7 linked regions of the Homo sapiens genome follow. The protein of the gene in region 2 purifies or fractionates together with the protein of the main gene of each other region. This does not show direct contact. Each region holds a gene or a part of one and is shown on either strand. Other genes may lie near its edges. The genes, in order: ANO10, SLC35F3, TRPM7, P4HTM, SNX19, ENPP1 and NPEPPS.

The links.
Region 1: the proteins of SLC35F3 (region 2) and ANO10 purify together in Homo sapiens (affinity purification with mass spectrometry; one large-scale study listed by BioGRID and IntAct). This does not show direct contact.
Region 3: the proteins of SLC35F3 (region 2) and TRPM7 purify together in Homo sapiens (affinity purification with mass spectrometry; one large-scale study listed by BioGRID and IntAct). This does not show direct contact.
Region 4: the proteins of SLC35F3 (region 2) and P4HTM purify together in Homo sapiens (affinity purification with mass spectrometry; one large-scale study listed by BioGRID and IntAct). This does not show direct contact.
Region 5: the proteins of SLC35F3 (region 2) and SNX19 purify together in Homo sapiens (affinity purification with mass spectrometry; one large-scale study listed by BioGRID and IntAct). This does not show direct contact.
Region 6: the proteins of SLC35F3 (region 2) and ENPP1 purify together in Homo sapiens (affinity purification with mass spectrometry; one large-scale study listed by BioGRID and IntAct). This does not show direct contact.
Region 7: the proteins of SLC35F3 (region 2) and NPEPPS purify together in Homo sapiens (affinity purification with mass spectrometry; one large-scale study listed by BioGRID and IntAct). This does not show direct contact.

Annotation. Positions count from the first base shown.
Region 1 is NC_000003.12:43,367,012-43,370,511, forward strand, and holds part of ANO10 (anoctamin-10), read right to left. Parts: intron 1-3,500. UniProt on the Homo sapiens protein: Does not exhibit calcium-activated chloride channel (CaCC) activity. Can inhibit the activity of ANO1.
Region 2 is NC_000001.11:233,907,676-233,911,175, reverse strand, and holds part of SLC35F3 (solute carrier family 35 member F3), read right to left. Parts: intron 1-3,500. UniProt on the Homo sapiens protein: Mediates thiamine transport.
Region 3 is NC_000015.10:50,610,298-50,613,797, reverse strand, and holds part of TRPM7 (transient receptor potential cation channel subfamily M member 7), read left to right. Parts: coding exon 1-91; intron 92-968; coding exon 969-1,249; intron 1,250-2,476; coding exon 2,477-2,705; intron 2,706-3,500. UniProt on the Homo sapiens protein: Bifunctional protein that combines an ion channel with an intrinsic kinase domain, enabling it to modulate cellular functions either by conducting ions through the pore or by phosphorylating downstream proteins via its kinase domain.
Region 4 is NC_000003.12:48,996,741-49,000,240, reverse strand, and holds part of P4HTM (transmembrane prolyl 4-hydroxylase), read right to left. Parts: exon of another isoform or gene 1,569-3,500; intron 1,326-1,568; exon of another isoform or gene 458-1,325; intron 1-457. UniProt on the Homo sapiens protein: Catalyzes the post-translational formation of 4-hydroxyproline in hypoxia-inducible factor (HIF) alpha proteins. Hydroxylates HIF1A at 'Pro-402' and 'Pro-564'.
Region 5 is NC_000011.10:130,868,615-130,871,479, reverse strand, and holds part of SNX19 (sorting nexin-19), read left to right. Parts: 3' UTR 1-2,865. UniProt on the Homo sapiens protein: Plays a role in intracellular vesicle trafficking and exocytosis. May play a role in maintaining insulin-containing dense core vesicles in pancreatic beta-cells and in preventing their degradation. May play a role in insulin secretion.
Region 6 is NC_000006.12:131,874,020-131,877,519, reverse strand, and holds part of ENPP1 (ectonucleotide pyrophosphatase/phosphodiesterase family member 1), read right to left. Parts: intron 3,253-3,500; coding exon 3,183-3,252; intron 1,745-3,182; coding exon 1,657-1,744; intron 529-1,656; coding exon 359-528; intron 1-358. UniProt on the Homo sapiens protein: Nucleotide pyrophosphatase that generates diphosphate (PPi) and functions in bone mineralization and soft tissue calcification by regulating pyrophosphate levels.
Region 7 is NC_000017.11:47,583,108-47,586,607, reverse strand, and holds part of NPEPPS (puromycin-sensitive aminopeptidase), read right to left. Parts: intron 1,109-3,500; coding exon 908-1,108; intron 461-907; coding exon 364-460; intron 244-363; coding exon 210-243; intron 1-209. UniProt on the Homo sapiens protein: Aminopeptidase with broad substrate specificity for several peptides. Involved in proteolytic events essential for cell growth and viability. May act as regulator of neuropeptide activity.

The sequences.
Region 1 (3,500 bases), on a different chromosome or scaffold from region 2:
AGCCTAAGTAGTGGCCGAGGCCTCTGCTCTCTGTGGAAGCCTGGCCAGCGGCTTTGACCCCAGGGAAGTGGTGACTCTGATGCTGCCTGCAGCTTCCTGCAAGTCCCTGGGTCTGACTCTGAGGAGATGGGAGACAGTTGGTGTGGTGGAAATGCAATGTCGCACTGTGTGAGCCCAGACCAGCAGGGATTTTAAGGACACTGAAATGAGAAGCAGCTGGCGTCTCCTCCTCCCTGGATGGCCAGGATGAGGGGAATAGGCGGACAGGGCCTGAGAGAGGACGGGGCACAGGCTTGGGACCAAGTGCTTGCTTTGCCCCTGTGCTTTGAGCGACCCTGGCAGTTTGACCTCACTGAGCCGGAGTTTCCAAATCTGCAGTGAGAGCAATAGTGCCTATTTTGCAGGGTGGCTGCAAGTATTGTTGTCCATGAAGTCCCTGGCACAGAACAGATGCCCCAAATCATCAGATGTTTCTCACCAGCCTTTTGTCCCTAGTACAGCCACAGGACTTACACTCACCCCTCCGCCCCCATCCTCACTGGGAACAACCCATGAAGTCTCTGTGAGGGTGACGTCAAGATAGAGGTGCCCTCCTCGAGGGCAGGATGGGAGACTTCCAGGGAGGTGTCAGAAGGGAGAGCCTGTTCCCACAAGTCAGGCAGCGGCGTAGGGGACAGTTCTGCTGCTCCTACCTTCCCCTACCCCAGCCCTGAAGCTCCCAGTCACTTCGGTTTTATGGCTAGAAAACACCACTACAGCTCTGCCCTATTCGTTGAATAAATGAATAACTATAATACTGTGGAAGTTGGCTTCAAACAGATTTTTGATAACAGTGATTCACCTATGGAAAAACAAAACTCTGAGCGCAAACATGGCTGGTACCCCCAGTACCTGGCTACTCATCTTGAGAGCCCCAAGTGCCACCCAGGGCTGGAAGCAATACCATGCTCCCTGTGGCTTTCAGTGGGAGAAGCCCCTTTCACAGACTGTCAATCAAAAGTCCTTGTCTGCTGCTTTAATTTACCCTCCTAAGGATCCTTTAGATCTGCAGCACCTCAGGAAGGTGCTCTCAACTCCTGACCATTCTCATGTTTTCTGAGCCTGGCCTGTCTCCCACAGGGCGGCTCATGATGGCTCCTGGAAGCTGAGCCCTCTGCATTTGGCTTGGGGAGGGGACTGGCTGGCCCTTTCTTATCCAGGTCTAAGCAGGGCTTAGGAGATGGCTTTTGATGAGAAAGGGGGCTACGGAGAGTCAAGGTGACCAGTTTACCTGCGGTGGGGGTAAGAGGGTTCTTTCTGCAGGGGCCACAGCATTTCAGTAGGCCTGGAGTAGGGGGTAGACACACAAGTTAACACTGGCCCAGGGACATGCCCTGTCCAAATGACCCACCACTGCAAGATTTCTATAACCTTCATCCTGCCAGGGGGATAGAGATGGTTTAATAGTTCACAAACCTAGAAAGGCTGAACTGCTAGGCACTGTAAAAGTCTCCCCAGAGTTTTTTGCATCTGCTACCTCTTCCATTACTAACATTTCAGGTCTTCCCACAAGCCCATGCTGTTAACTACAGATATAAAATATCACCATAAATAAAAACTGTAATATTTCAGCCCAGGTTCACTGCAGACTCTTCTAGCTGTTATCATTTAATACTTGTAAGACTTTTAAAATGTCTTTTTTTTTTTTTTTCAAGAGCCAGGGTCTCACTTTGTTGCCCAGGCTGGAGTGCAGAGGCGTGATCACACTGCAACCTCGAACTCCTGGGCTCAAGGGATCCTCCTGCCTCAATTTCCCAAGTAGCTGGGACTACGGGCATGAGCCACTGTGTGCGGTAAATTTAACTAAACTAAAACAATAATGAAGACAGAACATTCCCCAGCTTGTCACGGAATCTTGCAGCCACATTTCCCTGGCATTCCACATGGGGAAGAAAATCAAAATGGGAGCATCTGAGGCTCCTTTCAAGGCATGGTGGCTGGAAGCCCCGTGAGGTCAGGCACAGAAGCATCCAGCAGCTCTCTGGGAGGGGCCCCCTGCTCCACAGTAGCCAGGGTGGATGGGCCTTCTCCTCCAAATGACCAAACCCAATGTGACTTTTGTCTCACTTCCTGGGGCTGCTTCTGGGGTGCCCCCCACTTGTCCTTATAACTGATGTGCCCATGAGGGGCTTCTTCAGGGCCACAGCCCCTTCTCTCAGGCCCAGGGTTGGGGGCTTCACCCAAGTTCAGGGAAGGAACTCGGAACCCACTTGGCTGGGTTCCTCCCACCTGCAGTGCCTGCCTTGCTCAGGGCAGCACCTAAGAGCCTGAGGATGTCCACGAGGTCACAAGGTCATCTGCACTGAACTGCACTACTGGTGGCAAAGGTAGAAAGAATGGCCAGGGACCCTACAGTCCTCCCTTGCCTCAGGCCAGGCAGGAGCCATTTGCACATTTCTGCTCTTTCCTTCACCTGTCCTGGAGCAAGGCTTCTTTTAAAGCCATGAATGACCAAGCCTCACTGGAGTGTTCTGTGATCCCCAAGTTGGGCCACGGCCATGGGATGTCTCAAGGCCAGCTTGGCAGCCAGGGGAACAGGAGGGGACAGGAAGGCTGTGCTCCCAGGGCCTCCACAGGGCAGTGGCAGACCAGGTGGTTTCCTTCCAAGGGCACTCTCCCTCCCAGGGCCATGGTATGGAGGGGGGCTCAGCTCGACTCCCTGGGTTGCCTGTGCCCACAATCCCCAGCTGGAAGACCCTAAGCCAATGGCAGAACCAGAAATTAAAACCTGCAGCTAAAGTCCAAAGAAAAACCCAAGCGATTTGGAGGAAATGAGCTGCAACAGCCCGCTTTCCTGAGACAAGCTAAGTTGTCATGAAATCAGTGGCTGACATTCACACCTTTTCTGTGTAAATGGGGCAGGCCTCTACCTCCCTTGGCTGCAAATGGAGTCAGAGCCACAGATACTCATTACCGGCTGGCTGGCCCTAAGATGGCTTCTCTTAGGTAAACCAATTGCTATCTACCACTCATGAGTCTGCAACCCTCAGTATGGGGGTCATGCGACGTACAACAGGAATATCCCATTTGTTTTCCAGGAGGGCTGTCCTCCTGGTGAAGAGGAGGCTGAGCCCTAACCACAGCCCTGGCCCAAGAGCACTTCCCACACCCTCCCCGATGGGGAAGTGGTGAGCACTGGCAGAAGTGATGTCAGGATCACAGAATTTATGATTAGGAAGGAACCCTGAAGAACAGTCAGTCTCATGGCCACTTAAGAATCCTGAGACCTGGTTAAATGCAGGCCCTGCAGTGGACCCCAGACTCTCTGAATTTTTAACGAGCCTTCGAGTTTTTCCACTGGCCACCCCAGGCTTGCAAGTCTCTGATTTGTTGTCTGTCACCTTTCACAAATAAGCGAGCTGGGGCCAGGAGGGGTGAAACAGATTTCTCCCAGGCCATACTGCAGGCTCTGGCTGCGTGGGCTGGGACGGTGCCTAGGCACCAGGCTGCCTCTGGCAGCT
Region 2 (3,500 bases):
CAGGGTGAACTAACAGGGACGCTAGGAAGACAGCCTTTCCATGAGCCCTTCCCCCTCACCTCATACAAACCCTTTACAACTTTTAAACCTGGAGAATCCTGAAACATGCAATTTCCTTGTCACCAGGTGTGTTATTCAGTGCCCTACATTTTTTCAGCTTGAACTAGAAAACCTCCACCCAGATAAGCTGGGATTTGTTCATTAACCTGCATGTTCCTGTCCCAGGTTCACGTTGCCAATAGCGGGCTGGAGTGGGCTAGAGACAGTTGGTCTTTTAAGACTGACCCTCTCTCCATTCTACAAATGACTTAAAACTCATTCCATTCACATTCTGGAAAAAAGCATTTAAATCTCAACATACCAGAACCTGTAGTGAATAATAGTTGACGTTCAACAAAGTGTATAAACCTACTCAAATGATAATTGCACTTCATGTTAAGCAATAAGCATGACCCCCTTCAAAAAAGCTATTCGTAAAATGTTTTGGGGACTTTTTACCCAGAAAAGGATTTAAGAGTTCAATATTTGAAAACATCCTTTAGGGAAACCTTTCGGAAAGGGAAACATCCTGCCCACCCTTAGAATGTCTGTGTTCTAATGCAGGTTTGTGTTGACCTGTATTTCTAGACGAAGGCACACCTGGACAGTGAGCCACCTCTTCCAGCACTTCTCTCTCTATTCTGACATACACTGACTGCTGAAAAAAGGTTTTTTAAATGAATAAATGAAAATAAAGGAGTATTCGCAGATGTTCCTTCATCCTGCAGCAGAGCCTCTATCTGGAAACTCCAAGATATGTTCCTTCAATCATTCCTGTATGGAAATGCCACCAGCTGTCCCACCCTATCAGATGCCTGGGGCTGGCTGTCTACTATACAGATTTTTCCTGGTCTTTGATTCTCCTCATCCCTTCTCTAGCCATCTCCTCCCTAATTGGTGTCCATCCCAGAGAAATGAGAAAGGAAAAGGAAGCAGAAGATATTCTAATCAGTCATTTCTCTTCTACTGGGGCAAAAGGTAGGAAAGAAAAGGAAGTTATTAAAAGAAACTGTTCAGAGTCTCCTGAATTCTAAAGCACTTCCTACAGGGTGTCAATTTATGATGATTGGTTGTGGAATCATGCCAGCTGCAGAAGGAACAGGCTCTTTCAAATCTTCAGAAGACACTTGCACTGCCAGTGGTGATGATTACTCGATCTGGCCATCCTGAAAACCTAAAAAGTGGTCCAGGAAGAAAGGTGAGGAAGGAGAGGGTCAGGAATTTGTAAGGTAGGCCTGCTTGTTTAGCATTACTGGGCAACAGAAGAGAGTTCTATTGCAGCATAAATTTGGGGGTTACCCTAAATGAGTGGGTCTCAACTAAAGGCTGCCCCCCATGGGATACTGAGTTGCTACAACTTAGGGGGCAGGGTGGTAAGCTACTGACATCTAATAGGCAGAGGTCAGAGATACTGCTAAACATCCTACAATGTACATGACAGCTCCCTACAACAAATACTTATACAGCACAAAGGGTTAATAGTGCTGAGATCAAGAAACCCTGGGCCAAACCAAAGCTTATCACCAAGAATTCTGGTCCAGTCTGTGGTTCAGGAAGCACTTGTGATGGAAGAACTAGGAAAGAGTAGAGCAATTCCACATAACAGGAAGTCAGCATAAAGAGGTAAATGATACAAATCACTACAGAGGCATATTCAAAGCTCCCTGTCCCAGAGGTCAGTATTTCGTGCAGCAGCCATCCATTCATTCAACAAATATTTATTGAGTCCCTCCTGTGGCCCAGGTGCTTTCTGGGCCCTGGATCCACTCAACAGATGATAATTTGAAGAATTCCCAGGAATACTGCCAAGTGGTTTGGTTCAAAAACATGGAATGTGGAGCTTGGAGGACTTTTGCCACTGAGAAGAGGAACTGGGCCCTTCTTACTTCCTTGTTTACAGTTTAATTCTCAGTTGAATGTTTCACAAAAGCCATCCCTTTCAGACCCAGGAGCCTTTGGGATTTTTAAAAAAGAATCCTAGGCTGGGTGCGGTGGCTCATGCCTGTAATCCCATTACTTTGGGAGGCCGAGGAGGGCAGATCACAAGATCAGGAGTTCGAGACCAGCCTGACCAACATGGTGAAACCCTGTCTCTACTAAAAATACAAAAATTAGCCGGGCATGGTGGTGGGTGCCTGTAGTCCCAGCTACTCAGGAGGAAGCTGAGGTAGGAGAATCGCTTGAACCTGTGAGGCAGAGGTTGCAGTGAGCTGAGATTGTGCCACTGCACTCTAGCCTGGGCGACAGAGCAAAACTCCTTCTAAAAAAAAATACTATTATTTGGGGAAGCTGGGCAAATTTTAAGCCAGGCACGGTGGCTCACGACTGTAATTCCAGCACTTTGGGAGGCCGAGGTGGGCAGATCATGAGATCAGGAGTTCGAGACCAGCCTGGCCAACATGGTGAAACCCCATCTTTACTAAAAATACAAAAAATTAGCCAGGCATGGTGGTGCTAGTCCCAGCTACTCAGAAGGCTGAAGCAGGAGAATCGCTTGAACCCGGGAGGTGGAAGTTGCAGTGAGCCGAGATTGCACCATTGCACTCCAGCCTGGGTGACAGAATAAGACTCTGTCAAAAAAAAAAAAAAAAAAAAAAAAAGAATCCTTTACAAAATTCTCTTGTCTAGAGCGAAACTTGCGAATCCAAATGACTGAGTTGAGAATACTGAGCAAAGGTAATTTCTGTACTGTTCACAATTACCTCATTTATCTTAACAACCCAAACAAAATCTAAAAATGAAGAGGATACAAATGAATATTGGGTCATTCAAATGGTTTCTTCTGCTACAAGGGCAAATGACTTACATCCAGAAACTTTCACTGGCAACTCCTTCAGTTAGGACACAGATAAATCACTTTGAAAGATGACTGAAAGGTGACATAATAGCTTGGAGCTTCCATAACTCACTCTGGAGATCATGAGAATTTTTTTTTTTTGTCTTTGTTTTGTTTTTTTTGTAACCATCATCTCTCCCCATTTATAGAGTACAATTACCAACCAACAAATAAAGCAACTAGGTGATACCTACAGGTAATAGATAAGCCTCTTTATTATTATCAATTGAGTAGAAATGGCAAACAGCAAAAGTTCTGCCTTAAAACCTCTTCTGGGCCGGGCGTGGTGGCTCACGCCTATAATCCCAGCACTTTGGGAGGCCAAGGTGGGTGGATAACCTGAGGTCAGGAGTTCAAGACCAGCCTGGCCAACATAGTGAAACCTCATCTCTACTAAAAATACAAAAATTAGCAGGATGTGGTGGCGCACGCCTGTAATCCCAGCTACGCAGGAGGCTGAGGCAGGAGAATCACTTGAACTCAGGAGGTGGAGGTTGCAGTGAGCCAAGATCATGCCACTGCACTCTACACTCCAGCCTGGGTGACAGAGTGAGACTCCCTCTCAAAAAACAAAGAAAAAAAAAACAAAAAGACAACCTCTTTTGCTGCATTAATACATTAATAA
Region 3 (3,500 bases), on a different chromosome or scaffold from region 2:
GAGTCATGAATCTTTTGGCAATAGGGCAGATAAAAAGGAAAAAATGAGGCATAACCATTTCATTAAGACAGCACAGCCCTACCGACCAAAGGTAAATTTATTTAAATATTATTCTTTCTGGGTTTTTATTTTCTTCTTTCTAAATTACTTAGTATTATTAAACAAAAAAAACTAATTGATTTAGTAAGAATTACCTTTCGTTTTTGGATATGTCCTAGAATTGTCATTTTCTCACACACAGAGATATTAATTATAAGTTAATGATTCTGTTCCTTTTTTTTTTTTTTTTTTTTTTTGAGACAGGAGTCTTGCTCTGTCACCAGGCTGGAGTGTAGTGGCACAATTTTGGCTCACTGCAACCTCCACCTCCCAGGTTCGAGTGATTCTCCTGCCTCAGCCTCCCGAGTAGCTGAGACTACAGGCACCCAGCACTACACTGGCTAATTTTTTGTATTTTTAGTAGAGACTGGGTTTCACCATGTTGGCCAGTATGGTCTCGATCTCTTGACCTCGTGATCCATCCTCCTCAGCCTCCCAAACTGCTGGGATTACAGGCGTGGGCCACCGCGCCCAGCGTACATTTTCATATTTAGGTATGATAATAACCAAATTAAAATGTTTTAATAAATGTTTACCTGACTCCTTTCATTCCAGTTTTACTTGATTAAGAACATGTATAACAAAAATGTTATCTAACCCTTTATTAAAATTATGTTCTATTAGAATATTAGTTGAAATATTTAGGCCCTTAAATTTTGGAAAATGTTTATTGCAAAGGCATTTTTGTTGAAACAGCATTTTCATAAAATGAATTATGAGCTATAATAAAAATCAAGTTTATAAAATTTATGCTATTGTGCAGTTTTATGGAGCTGAATAATGTAAAGATATTTTACTAAAATTTTCACTGACATAAATTTCATATGGCCTTATTATAATGAGCTTTATAACTTTATTTTCCCTGGAAGATTGATACAGTTATGGAAGAAGGAAAGAAGAAAAGAACCAAAGATGAAATTGTAGACATTGATGATCCAGAAACCAAGCGCTTTCCTTATCCACTTAATGAACTTTTAATTTGGGCTTGCCTTATGAAGAGGCAGGTCATGGCCCGTTTTTTATGGCAACATGGTGAAGAATCAATGGCTAAAGCATTAGTTGCCTGTAAGATCTATCGTTCAATGGCATATGAAGCAAAGCAGAGTGACCTGGTAGATGATACTTCAGAAGAACTAAAACAGTATTCCAAGTAAGTGGTATTTTATCATTTGAAAACATTTTAAAAATTCAAAGTAGGTATTGTTTGAGTGGCTGTTACAGTGCCACGTACTTAATGGTGATGTATTTATATGTATAATCTTATTGGTACAATTGACAGAAAATTATATAAGTATATATTTTTTTAATTAAAAGAAACTTTCTGCCTCTATGAAAAAGAGGTTATTATATTTGCAACTCAAGAATTAAATATCTCAGCAAGAAAGAAGAAATGCAGCCTGGGCAACATAGGCAGACCCCGTCTCTACATGAAATTTAAAAATTAACTGGGTGTGGTGGTACTTGTCTGTGGTCCCAGCTACTCAGGAGGCTGAGGTGGAAGGATCACTTGAGCCTGGGAGGTTAAGGCTGCAGTGAGCTGTGATCATGCCATTGCACTCCAGCCTAGGTGACAGCAATAGACCCTGTCTCGAAACAAAGAAGAAATGCCAGAATTCATTTTAATTTTTGCAAATAGTAGCAATTGGATTAGAAAGTTCCATTTGAATTGGTAAGGAAAGGGTGGAAGTGAAGTTGGAGCTGTGTTATAAGAAAATAGACTGAATTCAACTGGGAAGGCACTTCAGAAGCTAGAACTACATACACAGAGTAACGACATAGTTCATAAAAGTTTACAATTTACTTAGAGGGGCAGTGTTGGAATATTAAACTGGAAAAGTAGTTTGTAGAAGTTTTCTAATATATACTAAGACCTCCGGCTCCCCAAGTGGGGTATTTAGAGGGCAGTGATAATTGTTACTGAAAATAACTCTTTAACAGGGATCCTATGGTTACTTAGTGGGACTTCAAGATTCAGATGTTTTTCATAATTAGGTTAGTCCCTAGTCACATTGTTTTTCCTCTCTACCAGGTACCAACTGTTTTCTGTGTTTGAAATACTACATAAACTTTTTTGAACAGAGCATTGTAGCATTGTGAGTTTTGATTCCCTTTGAGATTATAGTTTGATTTCTAGGACCGGGAGAATGTGCTCTGGATTCACCTTCTCAATCTTGTACATAATGCGACATATTTTAATATTTTGTGATTTCCACATAGATGTAGATGTCTGAAAACAGAGTTATGGTTTTAATGCCTCATAATTCTGTAAGTGTGTGTGAGAATATTAAAAAGTAGGAAGTATTAATGTATATAAGAATAGTGGTTTAAAATTGCAGTTTGTTAATCTGAGTATATTTTGGCTTTTATCTTTTTATAGTGATTTTGGTCAGTTGGCCGTTGAATTATTAGAACAGTCCTTCAGACAAGATGAAACCATGGCTATGAAATTGCTCACTTATGAACTGAAGAACTGGAGTAATTCAACCTGCCTTAAGTTAGCAGTTTCTTCAAGACTTAGACCTTTTGTAGCTCACACCTGTACACAAATGTTGTTATCTGATATGTGGATGGGAAGGCTGAATATGAGGAAAAATTCCTGGTACAAGGTATACTTTAGAAATAATTTGATATAAAGCATGTGATTAGATAAAAAGAACAGAAGAATTAGTCTAAATGTGTAGTAAAATGCCTTGATGTGTGAGTGTAATGGTGGGGGGTAAAGAGGGAGCAAGATGGATGATTGGCATTTCATCCCAAGTGGTATAATGGGCTTCTTTTTTCCTCTACTTAACTTTTGAATCCTTTTCAGGTGTCTATAATGATTATGGCCTCTCTTTGAGCTAGAAGGGGAACAAATGGCAAATATTGGAGATTATGGCCCCTAGCAGCCTTGAAAAAAGTTACTACTTTATGAAAAGATTATTCCCAAATTCTGAAATTCAAGACCTATCTACTAATTTAATAATCTGTTACTTTTAAGTTACTTAAAGTATATTGGATGAGTATATTGATATACCCATTATAGATAAGTATATCCATGTGGCCTGTTTTTATGATTAAAAATTTGGGTAAAATGGCATGTACCTTTGGTTTTGTCATGGTGATAGATACTGCTTTGAACTTTGCTTTTTGTTATCTTATATCTTTTAAAATAAGGTGCAGAAATGTAGGAGTCAGAAATCAGGCAAATAGTTTAACCATAGGCCACTGAATAACCAACAGAAAACCTGTTACACAATTACAATTTCTTCATGCTTTGGGATTTTGCAAGTAATAAGTAAAATTTTAGAAATAAACCTTTTTGTTTATAGAGGCACAAGCTGAGTAATCACATTATGACATGGAACACTTGCAAAGAGATTTAGGATAAAATTAAGGACATAGCACCTTTATAAGGCTTG
Region 4 (3,500 bases), on a different chromosome or scaffold from region 2:
AGAAAATACTTAGGTAGCACAGACTCTGCCCAAGGCACTGTCCTAAGCACTTCATACACATCAACTCCTTAATCCTTATACTTACCCTAGGAGGCCAGGCCCCATTAATTCAACCTTCCTATCTAAGAGGAAACCCAAGCACAGAGAAATCAGTGCCTTGCCACTGGCCACCCAGCCTGCTGTGTTCCAGAAACCATGCTCATGACCAGATTCAGCTACTAGGAGCAGGTGACCCTGATGTGATAACACTGAGGATAGGACAAAGGCCCCCACTCTTGGCCTGCATGATCCCGTGACCCCAGCAAACCCAGAAAGGGTGTGATCCAAGGGGAGACAGCCCTGTGGAACAATGGATTAGATCAAATTGCAAATCAACAGAGTCACCTCTTGATTGCTTAACACACAAAATTTAAAAAGAAAGAAAAAGGAAGCCAGAAAAAGAAAAGAAAACACAGGCCCAGGTTTCTTCAGTTTATTAGGTGCCAGTAATCTGCAAGCCCAGTGGAGGTGCCTCCAGCCTCTACAGTCCCCTGCTGTGTGCTAATCAAAAACAAACAGCCCAGTCAGCATGTTGGGGCCTCACCAGGTGGGTCCGGGCACCTCGGAGCTGTGCAAACCCCTGCAGGATCTCCTCTGTTGGCTCCCTGGGTGCAGGAACAGCCCTATAAAACCCTCAACCTCAGTTCATTAAGGCCAAGGCACAGAAGGCAGTGATGGAGCAGGGGCTGTGGCTGCTGGTGACACTGGTGATGCTGTGGGATGACAGCAGGGTCAGGGGCTCCCTGGGGCTGCATGAGGTGCATGCCCATTCCCCAAGCCATGGCCCTATGCCACGACATTGGCTACACAGATGCGTCTGCCCAACTTGCTGGACCACATCACAGCAGCTGAGGCCATCCAGCAGTTGGTCAGCTGGCTGCTCCTGCTTGCCTGGGAGTGCCACCCCGATGCCCGCCTCTTCCTCTGCTATTTACCCCTGTATGCCTTGACAGGTAGGACAGGGGCTTCCAGGTGCAGGGCCCTGGAGGGCTCCCTCAGGGCCCTGCTCTGGTGGCTCAGGTCTTCAGTAATCCTTGCTGAGCACCTGAGCACCTATCAGGGCTGGGCGCTGACAGGCACAGAGAGGAAAATGGATCGTTTTGTTAGAGTGTTCCAGACAGAGGGAACCAGGTGCCCTTAGGCAGGAGACCATCAATGGTGGTCAAGGGCTCTTGAATGTCAAGATAGGGCAGGTGGACAAGTCGCTTCAGGCTGGGGGTTGGGGGCAGGCGGGCTGGAACCTCCTCTCCAATGAGGCGTGGAAGCTATGTCTGTCCAAAGAGACCCTGGCAAGAGATGGAGCAGAGGCCCTTCTGGTGGCCTTTTCTCCCAGAGAGTCCAGAGATCCCAAGGCTGTTTCCTCTTCCCCAGCCTAACCTATCCTGTGAACAATGGTTTCTCCCAAGAGCCTCTGGGTGGCCATGTCAGCAGAACTCAGGATCAAGCCCTTGAACTGTTTGCCAACCCCAGCCCTGGCTGCGGTGCCCCGAAGGCCTTTCAGGACAAGAGGGAGGGCCCTGTTTCCTCACTTTAAGATGGAGAGTAAAGGCCCAAGGTGCAGGCCACCTCTTGCAGACAATGGATGTCCACAGAGCCGGAGGGAGAGGTGCACTGGAAAGCTGGCAAGGCACCTGAGTGGGAGGGCGGGAGTGAAGAGGCAGAGCTGAGGGCTGAGATGTGGGGCAAGTGGGAAAGCCAGGCTACGGGGCTGTTGCTAGGCGACCAGTGTCGTTGCCCAGCAACCAGAGAGTTCCAGGCCACGAGACAGGGGTAGGAACATGGAGAGGTTCCAGCTGATCTGGGTGCTCAGCCTGTGGCGGTGCAGCCCCCGACCCTTTCCCCCAAAGGGTCATCTACCCCTCCTACAGCCTGTGCGAGGCCATGCAGGCCAGCTGCGAGCCCATCATGGCCTGCTACAGCTACCCCTGGCCAGCCATCCTGCATTGTGGACGCTTCCCCTTGGGCCATGATCTCTGTATCACTGCTGTGGCCAACAACGGCTCCCGCCTGGACCGCCCATGTGAGTCTGCACATGGCTGGTCTCCACCTTGCTCGGCCCCACCCCTTTCAAATCATTCAAATCATACAGGGATCAGGTAAACTGTACTCAATGTCACCTACAGCAGGCATCCGTCTCAAAAAGGGTAAAAAAGGGGGAAAAGTGGAGGGATCAGCCCCCTCCACCCCCTCCTCACTCCACCCCCAACCACACTGGCCAGTGCCTCGCCTTGCCCCTCTTCCCAGCGCTGCATGCCAGCTGCAGGGACTGCGAGTTGCAGGATGCAGGCTCCTCCAAGGAGGTTCTGGACACTCTCTGCACCAGTGACTTTGATGAGTCCTGGGCCTGTAGCTTTACACACCCCTTCCAAGTGCCTCCATTGCAGCTCCTGGCTCGGGGCTGAGGCAGTGTAAGAGGGAATATCCAAATGCTATGCCTGGTTGGAACAAAAAGAAAAAATTCCTTTACAAGCATAGGACATTGCTAAAACAACAAAATGAAACCAAAAATTCTGCTAAGGAAGGTGGCAGACTGATTCTAAGGGCAGAGCATCAGACAAAAGGGTTTAGTCTACTAGGTGGAGGGGACTGATGGACTAAACACTCTTGGGGGTTTAGGGAGGACTCCTAGAGGCCCATCTCCTCACCGGCCCCTCTGTTCCCACTCAGCAGTGAAGGTCAGGTTCTCCAGGACCAACAGTACTTCCTCTGGCCCCTGGGACTGCAACCTGTACTCCAGACTAGAGGTGCTGAAGACAGGACCACTGCCCCCTGCAGAGCTGGAGCCCACCCTGCAACGCTGGCTGCAGCTGGATGTCACATGTGTGTACAATCTTTTTCGAGGAAGGCACACAGGGACCTATGTGTTGAGTGGGAAGATGGAGGCCTGCTGGCTGTTGGTAACCACGGCCTATGCCTGGAGCCAGGGCCACCAAAATTTTCGACTGGCTGTGCGCCATTGGCACCCTCACCAGTGCCAAGAATAGGGGCTAACCCCGCCAGGGAGAGCCTGGGACTTTGTAGCCATGGCCTCTGCAGTGGCCATGCAAATTGTGTGTGCTTCCATGGAAACACATACAACCCTCTTTCTGCCGCCCCCCAAGGAGATTTACAAACCAGAATCCAGAGAGGCACAAGTCTCAAACAGGGTGGAAGTACACTTTCCATGGACACAGCTAGGAACTGCTTTTTGAGCAGGTAGTCCTCTGTCTGGCCAAGAGGACAGACAGGCTCCCAGGCAGCTGTCTATGCTGGGTAGGGAAAACCACCTTCTGTCCTTCCCAGGCCTAGGATGACAGCCTGGCTAGTGGCCTGCTACTACTGCCCACATGCCTCGGAACCCCAAGCTGAGTCTCCGGGCAGGCACATAGCCTTGGGCTATGCTCACCTTGGACAAGATGCTGTTTGTCGAACCCCGGACAGACTTAATTATACCTGATTAACCTTTACCGGTCCGTAGCTTT
Region 5 (2,865 bases), on a different chromosome or scaffold from region 2:
AGAATAGACCTTATTAAGGGAGGAAAAACACTTTTGGAGTTTACCTCCTTTACACATCCTGCTTGCATGGAATCCAAATTCAGTGAGCTGACGGCAGGCCAGTTCCTTGCCACTTTATGCAGTTGTGTTTAAAGTTTACCCTCTGTTATCTATAAATGCAAGTGGCTTTTTCAAGAATAGTGAGGGCAGCTTTCATTAAGGACTCATGCATCTCTAGGAGAATCACATGGGCTTAGTTGGCAGTAGAGCATTTTCTTGGGGACAGAATGTATTATAGATGGTTTAGGCAGGAGGTTAGACGAGAAACTTCCAAAAAAATCTAGGGATTTTTTATTCTGCCCAAACCAGCATGTTCCTTCCTGCTTTCATTTTTTTGTTCATGTCCTTCCTTCCACGTGGTAGATTACCTTCTCTTCTCCAGCTGGGCAAGTAGGCTACCTCTGCCCATAAGGACCAATTCAAGTTCCATTTTCAAGAAGCACTGTCTGATTGCACCAGCCAAAACTCTTCCCACTTTCTTTTCAGTTATTTACACTGCCTCTCTAGTCAATGTGCATGTATATGAAGTCCTCAGTAAGAGACTATAATTCTTCAAGGGCAACGAACATATCTTTTATCTTTTTTAGTCCTATTATGTCCTTATGCCCCCCCCCCAACTATATGTATATACCTAGTGCATGATAGGTACAAAATAAATATTAAAGTTTACTTAATTAAAGATTATGTTTATTTAAGAGGCAAAATTTGTGAATAAGTCTGGATCTTGATACTGTTACTTTCATTTTGTTGATTCCTTTCTCCCAACCTTCCACATCCCAGAGACAGGGTGCTGGTGACTTTTATGGAAAGGCTTGAAGGGTGAAGATATGTGGAGAAACCACCGTAAACCTCTTTGAGATTAACCACTTATTCCAGTGGAGGGCACTGGCTAGTCTGTACCAGACCTGCCCCAGACAGCTTTGTACATCTTGCGTGTGGGTGGGAACCCAAAAAGTTTCCTTTTCAGTGGATCTGTTTAGGTGAGGTAAAGAAATCCATTACTCAAATGTTTCATCAGAGGCTACCCCCTGTTCAGGTGTGCACCCTGCACCCATGTGGGTTTGCGGATGGCATATAACACTTGCAGCAGCAGAGCTCGTTGCCACACATCCAAGGGAAGTAAGTGTGCATATGTGGATGCGGCGGGAATACCTGCGGTCTTTCTGCTGAAGAGCAGGGTTATACACCTCCTTTTAGCAATCTGGAGAGGACTGAGGCAAGAGCTTGTATTGAAACACAAGCAAGCTCCACGTATGGTTTTGGACATGGAAGAAAGAGTACTGTTGGGGTGGAATGACCTAAGTTTTTAATAGGATTAGGATTTCTGTGGATTTTTCCCAAGTGATAGAAGTTTTCTTCATCTAGCAGGGAGCCTCACCCAATTGCTTCTCTATGTTCATTTCTGAAACTCCTTTGTTAAAACTAAATAGCAACAGAGAAGAAACTTTCTTCAAAAAACTCTTCATATCTGTCATTTCTCCTATTCTTATGGAACTTCACAATTGCTTTTTCTTTATTCCTTTTTTTTTTTCTATATCAGCTCATCAGTCTTTGTGGGTGACTTGGCTACCCCACTAATCTAATTGCCTTTTTGATAGTTAAATCAATATGGACATCAACTTAAGGCTATATGTGAACCTTAAATGCATGATATTCCCTATACTTGATTCCACAATTGATATTCTGTGAGGAAAGTTGGCCAGATATTCCCTTCTGTGAAGTCAGAATAACTACCGACCCTAAGAATAAACATTTTGACCAATTCTTTATATGTTGCAAACTATTCACACAACTAGAAAGTTTAGCCATTCACATCTCTTCCCCTGATTTTAAGTCCCAGATTCTGAGACTCAGAAAGTTTAGTGACTTGTTGAGCTTTCTGTGGAAAATCTGTTGTAAAAACAGTTCAGACATTGGAAAATATAAAATAGCCCCTAGAGATCCCAATAAAGCTTCCTCTCCCCAAATCCCTCTACAAGTTTATCCTCGAAAAACTTTCTGAAAACTGATGAGAAAATACTGAGTAATTAATGCTCAAATGGGAAAGATGACATGTAAAAGCAAAAACCTGTTAATGGCATCTGTTCATATAGTTCCATGTGCCTTTTTACTTAACTGCACTGATAGGCAATGTAATGAAGAAGTTTCCTTTTAAAACGTAAAATGTAATTAAACAGAGTTTATCTTAAATTGGCTGGACCCGCACAGCTTGACTGAGACATACACAGCTGTCTTCATTTTGAAGCACCTACACTAGTCAAGCTTCTTTCTAACCCGCCCTTAGGGTTTGCCTGTTGGTCTGTCTTCCCTACTGGGCTGTTAATCCCTTGGAGGCAGATTGTCTTGTTTCCCAGAGTTTTTCCAGCATATACCATGGCAGACAATTTTCACCTTATCTATTCTAACTCGTAAGCCTCAGCTAGTGCCTCCATCCTCGGGTGCATAGCCCAGTGACAGGCATGTAACAGACTTTGCCTACAAGCAGTTGCTGATCCATAAATGACGTTGGCAACCTTCTTGTGGCAGTGAGTAACATATTTCTTTCCTCCTGATAGGCTTGGAATCCTCATCCCCATCTGGCAATTTTCTTTCCATCTTTCCTACACTCACAATGGAGCCCACACGCCTCACAACCCCCTTGACTAAACCAGATGACAGCAAGAATGCCTAGTTCCAAGTGAGCAAGGGTGAAGCCTTAGGCCCTTGTCTCCTCCAGACCTCCTCTCTGCTCTAAGAGTATACTGGGCATGGGGTGTGGTCGGGGGGTTGGGGGCGGAGGAGTACTTAACCTCAAACTGAGAAAAAGGGTGTCCTGAGCAAGTTTCA
Region 6 (3,500 bases), on a different chromosome or scaffold from region 2:
ATGTGCTCATCACCTCACTGCTAGAGTTAACAGCACAGATTCCCTAATTCAGGATGCTCAAGAACTGAACTAGACTTCTCCACACCCGTACCCAAGTCAACTAACTAGACTTCACCACACCTGCACCCAAGTCAAGTCACAGCTCCAAGGAATTAAAAATAGAGTGGAAAATGCAAAAACTAGAAAGAGAAAAGATATATCACAAAAGATCTACATGCGCCCCCTAGAATTAAAACATATGTTTACCTACCCCCACTCCTAAATTCTAATTTGATTATTAAGTATTTTTACAGCACATGCTATGCAGAGGGTGCTATCAAACCATACATACTGGACCAAACTTCTTGACGATACTTACCGAAGGGTTACATGAGCAGCCAAGGTTATCTCTGGGGTTTCTTGTGAAGGGGCACTGTACCAGGGGGTGCACTTCTTTGGGATGCTTTGGCGTATAAACAGGATTCTTTAGAAGGTGGTTAAGACTTCCATGAGTTCCGTTATTAGGAGCCGGTGTCAAATTCAGTAAATCTGCATAATTTCAAGATGGTAGAGTTACTTAGATGTTTCAAATCAAACAAATAGTAGACTTGTGCCATGATCTTTACTTTTTTAAAACCAAATACATGAGTCATTTACTCTTTAACTAAAATAAAAGTATAAAACTCTCTTGGGTTTTAGAGTATTTAAGACTAGGTTATTTTTAATAGAAATACTGATATGTATGCTGTATTTCACTACAAAATTTCTGATATTTAAAGCATACAATAACTACAGTCACAACCTGTTGAATGCATATTTTTGCCAATCATGGTACTAACATATTTTCTTATTTATTCCCCAAAACAATTTTATAAGTTATCATCAATATTTGGTAGATGAGTAATCAAAGTGTTTTACCCAAGTCTCAAAGTTACTAACTAAATGATCTAGAATTCAAAACCAGCTTTGTCTGAGTCTAAGACTCATGCTCTTAAATGTAATAACAGCAAATACTTATGTAGTAAGCACTTACTATATGCCAGCTGCTGTTTTAAGTATTTTAGGATACATTAACTCATTTAAACTATATAGACTCCCACTAAAAGAATTATACTTAAGACATATTTAAGGTTTTGCAGATGCCTAGGACCATTATCAGAATAAGAAACTAATATTTAAAACACACAATGCTTCAACACAAAAGGACTACTTCAGAAGGTACAAAGTAAACCAAGAATCTCCCTAATGGGTCCTCCTTCATTTCTGCAACCTTGACACTGACCTATATTCAACCATTATGGCTACCAGAAGTTCCAAAAGTTTTGTCCACCTTTCACTGCCCTCAATCTCCTTTTTCTGGCTTCTATCACTGCTCTGAGTCAAGAATCAAATCACTAAGCCGAGGGCCTAGCAAAGTGCTGGGCAGTGGGGGTGTGCAGACCACCCTGCTGTGAGTGGTGTACTTTAACCAGCAAGCAGCCTAGTGGAACAAACAGATAAGTAATAAGATGACATGTTCCCCACATTTCTTCAGTGAGTCTGAGAGTCAGGAAGAAGGTAAAAATCTGTCTTGCCTCACCATCATCTCCACAAAGTTGCCTACAATGTGACCTGCTTTTGATAATCCTATTTCAGGTCTATTTTCAGAAGGGAAAAAAGGCACCTGTTCACACTTACCACACATTAAGTTATAGACTTCAATGTTTTCAAAGGTGTCAGCCTCAATGCCATGCTTGAATCCAGGTCCATAGCCAACAAAGAGGGCCTAGATGGCCAGAAAAGGAAGTTTATCAGTGCATTTCAGCTGTCTACAAGTTGGTCCCAAAAATTCTGTTATCCACATTGTACATATACAAACTGGTTATGATAAGATAAGAGGAAAACTACCACGCTCAGTGGACTTTGTGGGAAATATAGTTTTAACCCTATCACACACATAATCTAAGGACATCTAGGATAGGTCTCTTAGTTTTACTACAATTCTTGGTTTGACAATCAGAACAGAATGAATGATAACATTTTTTTTTCATCTATGACATGCAATATAAACCTCATCCTGCCCACCTTACACAGTGATGCAGGGATCAAATTAAATAATTATTGTAAGTTTATTTTGAAAATGTTAAAGTGCTGGGTAAATGTAAGATATTATCCTTCTCAGAACATAAGTCTGATACTTTCTTATCTATTATAGCACTGGTTTTCTTCAACTGTAAAGCAATACTCTCAACAGAGCACAAAAATTTGAAAAATAATTATTAGAAATATAATAGGAGATATGTCATATGTTTATGAAACATGAATATAAAATTTTATTAATTTTTTAACTTTATGAATTTAGGGGTATGAGTACAGTTATGTTACATGGATATATTGCACAGTGGTGAAGTCTGAGCTTTTAGTGTTACCCATCACCAGAATAGTGTACATTGTACCCAATAAGTGGTATTTCATCCCTCACACTCCTCCTGCCCTCCCACCTTTGGGGAGTCTCCAATGTTTATTATTCCACTCTGTATGTCCGTGTTTGCCTACTGTTTAGCTACCACTTACAAGTGAACATGTGATTTTTAGCTTTTTGTTTGAGTTATTTCACTAAGGATAATGGCCCCCAATTCCATCCATGTTGCTGCAAAGGACATGATTTCATTCCTTTTTATGGCTGAGTAGTATTTCATGGTATGTGTGTGTGTGTGTGTATATATATATATATCTCACACATTTTTAATCCAATCATCCATTTATAAATATTTAGGTTGATTCCATGACTACTTCTGTGAATAGTGCTGCGATAAACATACGAGTGCAGGTGTCTTTGATAAACTGATTATTTTTTTTCCTTTGGGTAGATACCCAGTAGTGGGATTGCTAGATTAGGGGTAGTTTCATTTTTATTTCTTTGAGAAATCTCTATACAGTGATCCATAGAGGTTGTACTAATTTACATTCCCTTTGACAGTGTATAAGTGTTCCCTTTTCTCCACATCCTTACTACATCTGTTGTTTTTTGACTTTTTAGTAATAGCCAATGAATATAAAACTTTAACAAAATTCTTTAATGTTCAAAGAAAAATAGCTTTATGAAAGTATGTTCCATTAATTCTCATTCAAGACATATAATCACAGTATGTTTTCAAGTCTAAAACTTTGCATATCATTTTTTCTTTAGATTTAATCCAATTAAGTATAATAGGTTTACTCACTTGCATATTTGAAAATACATTGTCAGAGCCATGAAATCCACTTCCACAATATTTCCTTTCTGAGGGATTCCTAATGTTGACATATATGAATTAAAAATGTAAAGTCCTTTCATAAAACATAATTGATAATCATAACATTATTTTCATTGATTAAAAAGTATGTAACTATTTTGTTAAACCAACACAACGGTAAATAAAACCACCTGGCTTTGAAAAGCATTAAGAAGTCACCTCTATCTTTTATTTCATGGACAAATTAACTATAAGCAATATAGTAGACAGAAGAAAAACCACTAGCATCAAGACAGAAGTGGTTTT
Region 7 (3,500 bases), on a different chromosome or scaffold from region 2:
TGCTCACTTTAAAATCTTACACCCTCAGACAGTAGCACCAAAGGGAGGGGTGTCCATCTGCATTCTTGAAATGTGCACGGAAGTGGGGGAAGGTAGAAAAATTTACACCATATCGTAAAGCAGAAGCTACTCAACTGTGATTAGGAGGGAAGCCCTTTTGAAATCAGTGATTTGAAAAGATAAGGCAGGGTAACACATCATTAACATACCTATAAGTAACAAGGCCCCAGTTCTCCATGGCACCTTCACAAAATAAATATAAACATTTATTGATATATATATATATATATATACTCTTGCATCAAAAGTCACAAAATTTTAAAAAGTTATTACAATTCAGCAATAAAATGAAATTTACTTTACCAGCTGCAAAGTCTGCAATAGCAATGAGATCAATTTTAGGTAGAGGATAAGGAACATTGAAGTAGTCCTTATAAAAAGGCAAGGTTTTAGCAGCAACCTATAAAAGTATAAACAAAATAACCATCTAATAAATATGTTATTATAATTCATATTGAAACCCACAAAGGAATCCTGTTGCAAGCCAATGTATCTTAAATTACTAGAAATGAATCCCGAGGAGCCCTACCCTCCGAAGACTGCCTTAGCTCCAAACTTTGAATACAATGGCCAAACTTTAATCCATTTATAACTTGATATGAAAAATATAACTACATATTTTCCAACCCATTCCCTAGAGAAATTCCACTCTTATATTCTCTTAATTATTATTTTGTAAAATAATGAAACACCAAGGTTGGCATTTCCTAAATTCTACTAAAAATAAACCAAGTAGCACAACTTTCAGATTAAATTATAAATAACTGTACTAATAATTGACCAGAAATGTAAATTCCCCAACCTGGAGTTATGGACTGTTGGAACAATCCTCTTCAAGTACATTTACCTCTAACGCAAATTTTCCTTGCTCTGCTTTGCCAACAGGAGTGTAAACACGGACACACACACCATCTTTTGACCTTGTTTCTACAAAGTCATATTCACCCACAACAAATGCCACCAGATATGTAGACATAACAGGTGTGCGGGCAAACTTCACTTCCACTAAATTTTCATCATCAGGGTATGGTTTCCGGTCAATTACATTCTTTAAGAAATAAAAAAAAGAAAAATTTAAATAGGTTTACATTAATACCATAGAGCAAATACCAGCCAAAAACTGTAGGCTTTATTGCATCTCTTTACCCCTTTCTATTCTAGCATGGCTTATTTCTCTACCCCAATTCATCCAGTGCTTTTATGCTGTCTTTAAGAAGGAAAGTGGTCTGATAAAACACTCATACTAAGAAGCTGGAGGCTGAAGTGTTAAAACTACCAAGGACCTGTGAAAGAAAAGAGGAATGGACTTTTCTCAAATACTTATTATAAGCCAGGCATTGGGATGATTTAAGTTAAGGGCTTCATACTTTTCAACTGACATAAGTTTAGGAGAAAATGACTATTAATAAAAATAAAATAGGGGCTAGGCGCGGTGGCTCACGCCTGTAATACCAGCACTTTGGGAGGCTTAGGCAGGCGAATCACAAGGTCAGGAGATCAAGACCATCCTGGCTAACATGGTGAAACCCCATCTCTACTAAAAATACAAAACATTAGCCAGGCATGGTGGGGGGTGCCTGTAATCCCAGCTACTTGGGAGGCTGAGGCAGGAGAATGTCGTGAACTAGGGAGGCGGAGCTTGCAGTGAGCTGGGATCACACCACTGCACTCCAGCCTGGGCGACACAGCGAGACTCCTTCTCAAAAATAAATAAATATAATATAATTGTAGAATCTCCCATTTCAAAGGATACAAACTTCTAGATCGAGGGCATTCTCTACCAAAGTTGGCTCTAAGCTTATTTGTGAAGAAATTTCAACTTTACCTTTGGAGTCCCTAATTTCCTTTGGTGTTCTCCCTCTTTTTCCTATTCAGGCTCTGTTTCCTCAAGCTCTCTCTATTCTTCCTTCCAAGGAAGACTTATTCAAGAACACACTGATAAATTCACTCATACTAAAGTGTGAATGAATATTTCCGTTTAATATATTAGCCTCCTCTTCTAAGAATATGTGAGAAGAGAATGACATTCTATTTATGGGATGCTCTCCCCCAATAAATACATAAAAGAGTTATTTTCAGGTGCAGCAGGTTTTTCCAAGTTCCCCACACAAGACAGTCCTAGACAACACACTTCAAGTGGGGAATGCTTACCCTGTTCATGAATGAGATCAATAACACTGGTGAAGAGAATACATTCCAAGAATACAAACAGCCAGAGACCTAAATATACTTCATTACGCAGCTACATCTTTTGAATTTTTTTAACTTTTTAAAAACATAAGAGACAGGGTCTTGCTCTGTTGCAACCTTTTTTTTTTTTTTCCCCCGAGATGGAGTCTTGCTCTGTCACCCAGGCTGGAGTGGAGTGGCGCGATCTCAACTCACTGCAGCCTCCACCTCCCAGGTTCAAGCAATTCTCCTGCCTCAGCCTCCCAAGTAGCTGGGGTTACAGGTGCCTGCCACCATATCTGGCTAATTTTTGTATTTTTAGTAGAGATGGGGTTTCACCATGTTGGCCAGGCTGGTCTCGAACTCCTGGCCTCAAATGATCCACCTGCCTCAGCCTCCTGAAGTGCTGGGATTACAGGCATGAGCCACCATGCCTGGCCTATTTTTTTTTTTTTAAGAGATGGGGTCTTGTTCTGTCACCCAGGCTGGAATACAGTGGCACAATCACGGCTCCCTGTAGCCTCAAACTCCTAAGTTCGAGAGATCCTCCCACATTAGCCTCCCAAGTAGTTAGGATTACAGACACGTGCCACCATACCTGGCTAACTTTTAAGTTTTAAATCTTTTGTAGAAATGAGGTCTCACTATGTTGCCCAGACTGGTGTCAAACTCCTGGCCTCAAGCAATCCTCCTGCCTTAGCCTCCCAAAGCACTGAGATTACAAGCAAGAGTCACTGTACCTGGCTTTCTTATGACATTTAATAAGTCAAGACCTTTTTCTTTTTTTTTTTTCTGAGATAGGGTCTGGCTCTGTCACCCAGGCTGGAGTGCAGTGGTGTGATCTCAGCTCACTACAAACTCCGCTTCCTGGGTTCAAGTGATCCTCCCACCTCGGCCTCCCAACTAGCTGGGACTACAGGTGTGTGCAACCACACTCAGATAATTTTTGTATTTTTAGTAAGGACAGGTTTTCACCATGTTGGCCAGGCTGGTCTTCAACTCCTGACCTCAAGCGATCTGCCTACCTTGACTTCCCAAAGTGCTGGGATGACAGGTGTAAGCCACCATATCCAGCCCAAGACCTTTTGCTTTTAGTTACTATAAATCTATTAAACTTGTCAATTTACCTCTCTAAATTAAAAGAAGTAGATAATCTTATAAATGTATTTAACGAGGAATTTGACAAAGAGAAAATCCTCCAAAAATAAAGCTATCAAGAAAAAGAGGTCTTGGCTGGGCATGGTGGCTCATGCCTGTAATCCCAGCACTTT